Linked DNA regions of Homo sapiens: regions 2, 3 and 4 are each linked to region 1. Evidence: fine-mapped expression QTL. A gene starts in region 1. Each other region holds a variant in brackets. All regions are shown on one strand. Distances are between the middles of the regions.

The links. PIP is the estimated chance that this variant, and not a neighbour inherited with it, causes the effect.
Region 2: its variant is the best candidate, but not a certain one, in a credible set for the expression of RELT in whole blood (TOPMed, PIP 0.68).
Region 3: its variant is the best candidate, but not a certain one, in a credible set for the expression of RELT in whole blood (TOPMed, PIP 0.52).
Region 4: its variant is the best candidate, but not a certain one, in a credible set for the expression of RELT in whole blood (INTERVAL, PIP 0.74).

Annotation. Positions count from the first base shown.
Region 1 is chr11:73,374,848-73,377,531 of GRCh38, reverse strand. It overlaps RELT (RELT TNF receptor), which reads right to left and starts at 1,133. Exons shown (of 11, transcript NM_152222.2): 1 at 1,033-1,133. RefSeq lists an enhancer at 154-448 and silencers at 614-693, 784-1,073, 1,104-1,413.
Region 2 is chr11:73,400,424-73,403,107 of GRCh38, reverse strand. It overlaps FAM168A (family with sequence similarity 168 member A), which reads left to right. Exons shown (of 8, transcript NM_015159.3): 8 at 1-2,621. Among named protein-coding and RNA genes, the nearest start is that of RELT, 25 kb to the right of the region's middle. The variant C/T (reference allele first, on the strand shown) is at 1,477.
Region 3 is chr11:73,449,108-73,451,791 of GRCh38, reverse strand. All of the region lies in intron 2 of FAM168A (family with sequence similarity 168 member A), which reads left to right. Among named protein-coding and RNA genes, the nearest start is that of RELT, 74 kb to the right of the region's middle. The variant C/T (reference allele first, on the strand shown) is at 1,429.
Region 4 is chr11:73,581,933-73,584,616 of GRCh38, reverse strand. The region is part of intron 1 of FAM168A (family with sequence similarity 168 member A); the gene reads left to right. Among named protein-coding and RNA genes, the nearest start is that of FAM168A, 15 kb to the left of the region's middle. The variant T/C (reference allele first, on the strand shown) is at 1,118.

The DNA of each region.
Region 1 (2,684 bases):
ATCTGGGCCACCCCACCAGATGTTGCCCAGCCTCGGCTTTCTCCCTCAGCCAGGGCCTATCCCTCAGGGTCCATCTCCTCACCAAGCTGAACTCCTGAGGGGTGCCCTCGTGGGGACAGTCCTGGAGACCCTTGTCTCCTGGCTCCCCAACTTCCTCATCGCCCCACATCTGCCGGAAGGTGTCCTAGGTCCGGTCCCTCCTCCTCCTGCCTCTTACTCATCATCACCCTAGGCGCAGACACACACACACACACACACACACTGACACCACTTGACCCCACACGCACACCATGGCGCCAGCGAGCTCGGCTCGTTCTCAGTCACTTGGGCTCCTCTCCCTCTATTTCACACTCACAGTAACGGGTGGCCCTGGCCCTGCGCCGGTCACGCCCCAAGCCACGCACTTCGTGACCCCAGTGACCCCGGGTCTTTCCCTCACACAACACACGCACACACGCTGCCTGTCTCCCACACACAGAGCCCCTCTGTGTCGCCCGCTCGGCCCGGCGTCACCGCCCAGTGTCCCAGCCACACGTTCGCCCGGCCAGGCCGCCTCACGCGCCGTGTCACCCACAGTCACGGGCTGACACCATCCAGACCCCCCCTTGGCCGCCCCGCGCCGCAGCCGCGCCGAGGCGCCGCCGTCCAGCCCGCACCACAACCTGGTCTCGGTCCAAGTTTCCCGGGCCGGGGACCGCTCCGGGCCCCGCCGGCCCCTCACACCGCAAGTTCCGCTGCTTCCCCGCGCGCCCCCCGACAGCCACCACGCAGGGCCGGCCCGGAGTCGCGGCCGGAGGACCTGCAGGTCACGGGGCTCGGAGACTGGCGGTGGCCGGTGCGCGGAAGGCGCCGGGACAGGACGCGAGGCGGGAGGAGTGGGGTGGGGGGGCGCGCGGCCGGGCTGCCGCATCCGCCGAGCCCGCGAACTTCCTCAGAGACACGGGGAGGCAGGGGGCGCCACTAGGGTCCGTATCCCGCTGGCCCGGCCGCGGAGAGCAGACTCTGGATGGGCGCTCCGCGCGCCCTCCTTACCTGGCTGCGCCGCGGCAGCTCCAGCTCGGCTCCCCGTTCGACTCGGCGCCGCGGCCCGGCTCGGCGAGCGCCCGGACAGCCGCGCAGCCTGCGCGCCTTTTGAATGAATCGCCGGCTGGGCCGGGAAGGTGCGCAGACCCGCCCCCGCGCGTCACGGCCGCTCCGCCCCCGACGTCAGAGCGCGGTCTGCGCCCCGCGCCCGACTCACCCCGAGCCGCGGAGGGGCTCGCCGCTCTGCCGCTGGGCGGTGCTGCTCTACGTCGCCCTCTCTCGCGCCCCTGGGAACTGCAGGGGGCTGCGCGGGACTGGGCGGCGGTGCCCAGAGGGCCTCTTGTATCCGCCTCTTCAAGGCTCTGAACCAAGCAAGGAGTTGTGCGAAGCAAGATAAAGAGACTGGAGACTGAGATACTCCTCTGGGTCCTCTCAGCATTGCCAGTGTAACTAGAGCCACCTCTGCCCCTTTCTGGGCTTCATCTTCCTCCTGCCAGTTGGTGGCCAGGAAGAATAACCTCACTTTGCTTTGTTGACGAGGCCCAGGCCCAACCCTGGAAACCCTCACCTAGTTGGCGAAAAGGCCTGGTGAAGGTGAGTCTATAAAGGAAGCCCACACGGTGGGCTTCGGCACATCCTTCAAGGCCTAGTGAAATCCTCCAGGAGGCGTCTCCTGCCTCCACTCCCCTACTCCCCGCACCACTTCTCTGTGCCAGGGTAGTTAGTTTCCCTCCAGCAGGACAGGTGACTCAGTGCCCCCCTCCCTACTACAGCCATCCCACCCTGCCAGTTTCCAATGCCAGTCATCACAAACTCCAGGCAGTATTCACACTGTATTCCGACTCCGAATCGTGTCCCCTGGAGTTGTGCTACAGGGTGTGCCAGGACTGGAGGGAGCAGCTCAGTGGCCCGTTCCCCCTCTCAGTACTATTCAGGGGATCTCAGGCGGTCCTCCTGGGACAGTAGGGCTGATGGGAGACTGAGACACCAGGGAGGACCTAGTGCTGGGCCAGAGGCCTGGCTGGGGTCAGGATAATCACAGCCCATGACAGAGATGGAGAAAGGAAGGTAAATAAGTCAGCTGGGGATAGATGGCTGGGGGTGGGGTTCTAAACAGTCATAGAATCTGAACCCAGGGGCTAGGAGACGGAAAAGGTCAGGTCCCCAGGGTCCAGGAGATTCCAGGAGGCGAACTGGACACCGCATGGGGAGGGGAGCAGGGGATGAGTTTTCATTTCCCTGGGTCATGCTCAGGTTGTGGGGGAAGGGCATAAGGAGCTACAGGTCATTGATGTCAGGATCATGACATCAGCACCCTCATATGTCAATGGAGACCTCCAGGGCTGGGGCAGGGGTTCTTCCAGGGTCCCACATCCCAGCCTACGGAAGGCCAGAGCATCCAGAATGCCTCCACTCCTGGAAATGTTTTCTTTGTAAGGGGACCATCTACACCCCAGCTCTAGGTTCTAGAGTTCAAATGGTGGCAATTTCAGGTGTCGTCACTCAATAAACCAAATGGGGAAGGCCAGGTGTAGTGGTCACACCTGTAATCCTAGCACCTTGGGAGGCTGAGTTGGGAGGATCACTTAGCCCAGGAGTTCGAGACCAGCCTGGGCAACATGATGAAGCCCAGTCTCTACAAAAATATGTGGGAGAATCAC
Region 2 (2,684 bases), 26 kb before region 1:
CAAAGTACTTTGACATTGGTTGCCAAAGTCCTCCATTTTATAGATGAAAAAACTAAGGCTCAGGAGGCTTGAGACTTGCTAAAAGGTCACACAGCTTGGAAGTGATTCTTCAAATCCTCTGCTCTTTCTGCTGCCACCTGCTGGGTCTCTTGGCAAGCATGGAGGGAGGGGCTAACTGTACTTTATAGAGCTGGGAAGCCCAGTCTCTGAGCTGAGCAGATTTGTATGAACTGCTTTGGGCCAGGACCTGTAATGAGCCCTGGGGAGGGACCCAGAGGCACATCTAACTGGCAGCACAAGGAGGATGAGAATTTGCAACTAAAGGCCTCACTTGGACAAAACACTTTGGGGTCACAATGCCCAGGACCGAAGACATGTTCAAGGACAGCACGAGGCATCTTTCTATTGGGAGACCCATGTCCTTGGTAAGCCTGCACACCTGGCTTCCTAATCCCTGAGAGCCTGCCCACTGTCCAGATCCAGTGAGTTGGTACAAAACGTACAGACTGAAGTCCCTGGGCTTGCTTTTCCCATGGGTGAGGACCAGAACCAGACTCTGAGCATCCTTACCCCTGGCCACCCGAATTGTTCCAAGTTTGAGGTACCCCGTTCCCAGAGATCTGGGGGTCCTTCTTTGGAGGGCTTGCTTTGTTCTGATGGCCTTCAGAAAGGAATCACATGAAGTATAAAAGGACAGGCCCCTTGGTCACCAAGTTTTGGCTCCTCATACAGATAGGACTCATCCAGGTTCCCAGCGAGGCACTGACTAAGCGAGGCTCAGAGCTTCCATATCAAATTCCTCAGCTTTGTTCTGTGCCCAGAGGGGGTGGGCCCCATTCTGGGCCCTGTGAACTTTGTCTTATATATCACCATCTGTATCAGAATTCCTCCTCAATTGCAGTTAAGTGAAAATACGTGGAAGTCTGCTTTTCCATCCTGTATTCTCCCACATCACTACTGGCTGTGCGGCCCCCGCTGCTTGCCAAGCTTGGGAATCCAGAGAGGGGCAGTAGTAGAGTGGGCCAGTTGGGACCCACCCGCAGAGCTGAAGAAACACGCCAGACTAACTGATGGGATTCCACACCGGAGCCTCTGAGCGCACAGGCAGGCATGCCAAGGGGGCTGCAGGGTTTGTCCTTTACTTATCTGCCCCTTTCCTAGAAAACTCCTCGTTTCTGAAATTAGGCATTATATGGTTCCAGGACCCAGCCTTCAAAATTCCTGGCAGGCCAGCTTCAACATTCCATGGCCAGCCCTGCCTAAGCCAGACTTGGGTCCCAGTCCCTCAGTCTCTCCAGTGGATATCTTCTGTGGTGCATGCTGTTGAGTCCAACCCAAAGGCCAACCGAGGCACACAGGAGTTGGGACTGGCTGCCACAAAGCTAGAAAGGGACAAAACAGCACTTGCTTCCCTATGGCCACATGGATAGTCCCTGGATATCCTTGCTGTGGTAGAGGTCCTCTACCCATTCCAGC[C/T]ACTGATAGCAGGGGGATTTTCCTTCCTAAGGAGAACAGATGTAACAGCTTTGCAAAGTACCGGCCCATAGGAATCAAATGGGTGAGATCAGCTTTGGGCCTGACCCCAGCAAGACCAGCATCTCCAGACCCCAGCCTTTCTCCTCAGGCCTAAGAGAGTCAGGGAAAGAGAGGAGACTGTCCCAGAGACCTTCTCCTCGGGTCAGCCAGATAGTCTGGATCTATGGTGTGACTCAAGCTCCTCCTTACCCAGGGGGGGTAAGGCCAGGCCTCTAGCTACTTGGAGTTGTCTGTAATAATCTTGAAAGGCCCAAGGGCCTGTCCCCATCCTGACTTAAAGGCATCTGCTTCCCTGTTTCATATCACATGACAGAGAAACCTGTTCTCATGGCATGTAACATCCCTGTGAAGAGAGCGTTGTATATGATTTTGTATTTTTTAATTCATTTTAATCTACAGGTTGGAATCTAATTTTTAAATTTTATTGGAACTCACATTTTAAAAAGAAATAAAATTTAAAATAATAATAATAATAATAATAATAATAATAAACCTTTGACCAGTGTCTTCCAAGTAGTTTGATCAAAGAATTTATAGGTGTTTTCAAAACACAGTCCGGAGTGTAAAGATTGGAAAGCCCCATGGCCTTGCCTGTGTGTATGAAGTGTAAATCTGGTTTTGTTTTGTTGTTTTGGATTCTTTTGGGTTTTTGTTTTGTTTTGAAGATCAGACAGTGATCACTCTGAAAGATTGAAGCCAAGAATTTGTAACTATGGTATTTACTGTAAGCTGTAGAACACTCAATAACTATTAAAAAAAAAAATTCCCCCCCAAAAAAAAGTCTTAGGTGACTAGACTGAGTGGTTCTTGGGGAGGGAGGCACAGAGGACTGTCCTGGGCCAGTGAGTCCCTTGGGCGTCTCCCCAAGTTGATGCTAAATTTGTTCTCAGTAGTCAAGAAAAACCTATGGTACATCTTACAGCTGATCTGACAGGGGTCTGCCCTAAGGGTCTCACAGCTGCTGGGGAGCTTTAAGTGGCAACTTCAGCACCCACCCTAAGTGTGTGATGTGGGAGCACAGTGAGGCCATTCAGAGTTGAAATCCATTGAGCCATCCGCGCAATAAAGCTGACATCTATTGTGTGGCTGGTGCCTGCTGCTCATGTTTGTTAAGGCATTCGGTCCTCACAGCACACGTGAGGTGAGCC
Region 3 (2,684 bases), 74 kb before region 1:
GTTGTTGTGCAAATATAATGGAGTGTACTTACACAGACGTAGATGGTACAGCCTACTTACACACCTTGGCTATGTGGTATAGCCTAGGCTACAAATCTGTACAGCATGTTACTGCACTGAATAATGTAGGCAATTGTAACACAATGGTTGTTTGTGTATCTAAACATAGAAAAGGTACAGTAAAAATGCAGTATTATAATCTTATGGGATCACCTTCATATATGCTGTCATTATGCAGCATATGACTGTAGACTGTCTTATAATTGTTTATATCTTTAGTAATACCCATTGCTATTGCAGGCAGTCATTGTGTTCTCAGTGCTAACACAAAGTGCCTAACACAAAGTGAACTCTCAATTAATATTGGTTAGTTGAGTGAATAAAGGACTGAATGATCAAACCTCTAATAACGAAGCCTTTTCAGAGGTCCATAAATCTCTCTGGCAAATTGACCTGAGAGTTTGGAATAGGCTTTTTGTCCCGAGGGTCTTCTCTAAACAGTAATTCACATTTAGCTCTAAGCCAGTGCTTTCACACAGAAAATTACATTATTTATAGGGAACTCTGGATAGATAGACAAAGCTGCCCAGGAGCTCTTATGCCTCACCTTCTTCCCAGACAGCCTAAGAGCTTAAGGAATCAGTATCTCAACTCAACCTGTAACCCATTTAGATAGCTCCTAAGCTGCCATGAAGGGGTTCTCAGAATTATCTAGTTTATGTTTGTCTTCCCAACCCCTAATATATATCACACATGCACACACTCGTCTCCATCCTTGCACCTATTCATTCCTGGTTCTTACTATGGTAATAAGCACAGGTATGTTGTGGAAAAAGCTGGTCTAAGAGTTTTTTTCTTAGTAGCAGCTAGTAGTAGTATATGCATACTTTGGGAGATTAGAGAACCTCCACTGTAGACTTGTCCTTTCTTTCAGGGTATATTGTCTGGAACTTCTAGGAGAATTCCTCTTCTGAACTCAAAGCATCTTTTTTAAGAGACAGCTTTGCCTTGTGAAAACCCACAGGCATTTCCCTATGTTCTGAGCATTCAGGGTCTGTCTGGTCCATAAAAAGAAACCAGTTGAAACCTGTCACTATTGCTGTTTAGATTTGGGGGGAGGGGAGTGGAGAAGGGGGGTCGTTTTGTTTTTGGGAGGGAAAAAAGGCCATAAGCTAGGTGAATATCCTGATACAGTGAACCTTTTCTTACGGATGGAGAAACTTTTCCAGCATCTGGAGGTGCCCAATTGTCAGTTTCCAAAGTCTCTGTGACTAATAATTGATTTATACTTTATAGCAGTGATTTTCTAAATGTAACCCCTGGGCCTACAAACCTACTAGAAATGCTAATTCTTGGGCTTCAGCTTCAGACTTACAGAATCAGAAACCCTAGAGGTGGTTCCCAGCAAAATCGGTGTTTTTACAAGCT[C/T]TCTGGATGATTCTAATGGACCTATCTCCCATTTAGTAAATGTTCCATAGTCTTCCTCTTCTCTCCCAATTTTGTGAGCTTGTCTAGGAATCTTGCCATCATGAATGTCATAATTCCTTCAAGTTCAAAACAGCTTTAGAAGCAGGTTATGTGTCAAATGTCACACATGTGTCAGCTATGACAGGAGGGGCTGCTGGCACCTTCTCAAGACAGATTGGGTGGTCCTAAACCCTGGACACAGGGATGCAAGCCAGTTTCCAGCAGGATAGCCAACAATTTTCTTTTCCCTTGCACATTTTAGGAAAACTAAATAATTGGCCCCTAAAATTGGCTTTAAAAGGACTCATGTTGAGTAAGGTCAAAAGTGTGATTACTTGAAAATTGCTCAGCTGATGGGGAAGGTACTTGAATTTAAGTGTCTAAATCAGATTTTTGCTATTACTGCTGTCAGCAGGAGAAGATGCAGAAAAATCAGTAGTCCTTGGTCTTGTTTAAGCTACAAAACCATACTTCTTGTTACCTCCAAAGGTCTCTGTCTACCAAGGAGAAGCTTTGGCCTTCACTGTTACCACAAGTGCTGTCACAATTTGTAAGTTTATGCTGAGTTCATTGGACTCTGTTGCCTTATGCCTGCATGGCAGGAGGCCTGAAATCTTCGTGGTACCATAAGATAGGTGGGGATGGGCAAAGAGTCAAGACCTGACTCCAAACCTTCCTACCCTCTTCCCGCCTTAGTGTGGATCCCCAGCTGGGAGCTCTGAATTGAAATGCAGACAAGAGGGCTGGGCACAGTGTCCAAAGAGGGGACCTGATCCTAAGTAGTTCTGTTGTAATTTAGGTTACTAACCATCCTGAGTTTCCAGAGGAGCTTGGAGCCTTAAGAAGGTAGGCCGAGTGATTCATATTATTATAGTTATTTTCATCATTTGAGTACCCATTCCCTAGTAAATCCAGTGCCAGATTTTTTTTTTCATGTAGCTTAGTAGTTAAGAATTGTCTGTGTTTGAATCTCAGCTCCGCTGTTTTATCACTCACTATGCATCAGTTATAAATGCCAGAATATGCTACTGGAAGACTTGATTAACAGTAGCTTAGGCCAGGTGCGGTGCCTCATGCCTGTAATCCCAGCACTTTGGGAGGCTGAGGCAAGAGGATCATTTGAGCCCAGGAGTTGGAGACCAGCCTGGGCAACATAGAGAGACCCTGGCTCTCCAAAAAAAAATTTTTAAATTAGGTGGCGCACACCTGTGGTCCCA
Region 4 (2,684 bases), 210 kb before region 1:
CTGTAGTCCCGGCTATTCCGGAGGCTGAGGTGGGAGAATGGCGTGAACCCGGGAGGCGATGCTTGCAGTGAGCCGAGATTGCGCCACTGCACTCCAGCCTGGGTGACGGAGCAAGACTCCGTCTCAAAAAAAAAAAAAAAAAAAAAAGTCAGTGGGCCAGCCATGGTGGCTCACACCTGTGATCCCAGCACTTCTGGAAGCCAAGGCAGGAGGATCACTTGAGACTAGGAGTTTGAGACCAGCCTGGGCAACATCTCTACAAAAAAATAAAAATAAATTAGCTGGGAGTGATGGCACATGCCTGTGGTCCCAGCTACTCGGGAGGCTGAGGTGGGAGGATCGCTTGGGCCCAGGAGGTCGAGGCTGCAGGGAGCACTGATCATGCCATTGCACTCCAACCTGGGTGACAGAGTGAGACAATGTCTCAAAAAAAAAAAAGTCAGTGAATGTAAAAAACACCCCTTTCTAAATTTTTTCTGACTAGATCAATCATCATTGAGGAGGTACAGTATTTCTCCATAATCCCCTGCCCCAGAAGCAAAGGAGTGTTTTTAAAAATATATTTCTGTGTTTACTTACATTTTGATCAGGCTGTATAATTATGAAGGGAAAAACCAACACCCTTTAAAATGAGCATGCCTGAAAGCCTGCCCTTCAACCAAGTGTCATTGTAGGGACACTGTCTCCTAGATAGGAGTTAGTGTTAAACTCTTGACTTAAAACCTTTGAGATGAGGTCCAGGTTTCCCAATATGGTATCTGAGGTAGTTCAAGATCCTCTCCCCAACTTCTTCACCATTGTCATTTATTGTCTCTCCTCCTGGCTTGTGCGTTTTACCTCCAGTACTCCTGAAGTTTGCATTGTACTATGTCTGCAGTTCTTCAGATGTGCAGTGCCTCTTTTCTCACTGTCTTTGCACGTGCTGTTCTCTTGGCCTAGATATCTCTTTGTTACTCTTAATTGGTCTACTCTGACTTAGCCTTTAAGACTCAGCCTAGGAGATAACCTTTTCCAGAAGGTTTTCCGTGATTTCCTAGGTTGGGATTGGGTACCCCATCTCTGGGTTACTCTGATTGTGGTTATCCATTTATTATTTGTTGGTCTCTTCCACTTGCAG[T/C]GGACAGGAGTTGTATCTGATCATCCTTTTATTCTCAGAGCCCATCTTGGGACCTTGTACAGAATAAGCATCAGTAAAGACATGTCAGGTGAATCCATCATTTCAAACTGGCCTATTAACAGCTGTAATTTCCCAATGAGTCAGTTACTCCATGTTGCTCTGGGCTGAGTTTTTTTTGTTTGTTTGTTTTTGTTTTTGAGACAGAGTCTTGCTCTGTCACCCAGGCTGGAGTGCAGTGGCGTGATCTCGGCTCACTGCATCCTCTGCCTCCTGGGTTCAAGTAATTCTCCTGCCTCAGCCTCCCGAGTAGCTGGGATTACAGGTATGCACCACCATGCCCAACTAATTTTTGTATTTTTAGTAAAGACGGGGTTTCACTCTTTTAGCCAGGATGGTCTTGATCTCCTGACCTCGTGATCCGCCTGCCTTGGCCTCCCAAGGTGCTGGGACTATAGGCATGAGCCATTGCACCTGGCCTGGGCTGAGTTTTAATAGAGTGTCTTCTATCATTGTTGTTGCCCCTTGCTCCCTGCCCGTTGTGTTGTCTCTACTCTACTTTAGCCCACTCTCATGTAGCTTTCCTTTACTCTTTGCCCATAGCTGGGTCAGTGGAGCTGTGTACACAGTAGACACAATGAGACTCAGAAAGAACTTGATTTATGACGGATCCCTGGAATCTCACTTGGAATGAATGCAGATCACATTGGTAAATGGAGAAGACGGGACCTTATGATTGCTTTTCTGACTCAGTCTAGAGTTCTTTTTTCTGCTTCAAAGTTTCCTCTTTATTAACCTTTGGTCAGTTTTAATTTGTAGATAATATAAAATGAATGCTATAAAACCAAATTGTATCAAATGCTTGTGTATTTGATTTTTACAACTGAAATATAAGACTTGACTTAACTATTTGATGGTAGAAAGATTGAGACTTTAAGAAATGTGGGTTTTTAATTACCCTATTAAGCCATTAGTAGTTTCTGGCAGGCAATTTTTTTTTTCCCCAGGCTGGAGTGCAATGGCACCATCTCGACTCACTGCAAGCTCCGCCTCCTGGGTTCATGCCAATCTCCTGCCTCAGCCTCCCGAGTAGCTGGGACTACAGGTGTGTGCCTCCACGCCTGGCTAATTTTTTTTGTATTTTTAGTAGAGATGGGGTTTCACTGTGTTAGCCGGGATGGTATCGATCTCCTGACCTCGTGATCCACCCACCTTGGCCTCCCAAAGTGCTGGGATTACAGGCATGAGTCACGGTGCCCGGCCTCTGGCAGGCAATTTTAATTAGGATTCCCCAAAATATTTTGCTGATTAGAGTCTTTGTAGCAAGCAAAAATAATCACTTATGCATCTATGCATTATTTTAGTCAACATGGATATCAGCCTCTATGTTAGGTTGGTTTTGATGATACACGGAGATGAGTAAGGTGTAGTTGCTGTCTTCAAGGAGCTCCAGATGCAATAGAGACAAGGTATAAACAAATAAGTTGGCTGGGTGCGGTGGCTCATGCCTGTAATCCCAGCACTTTGGGAGGCCGAGGTGGGCGGATCACAAGGTCAGGAGTTTGAGACC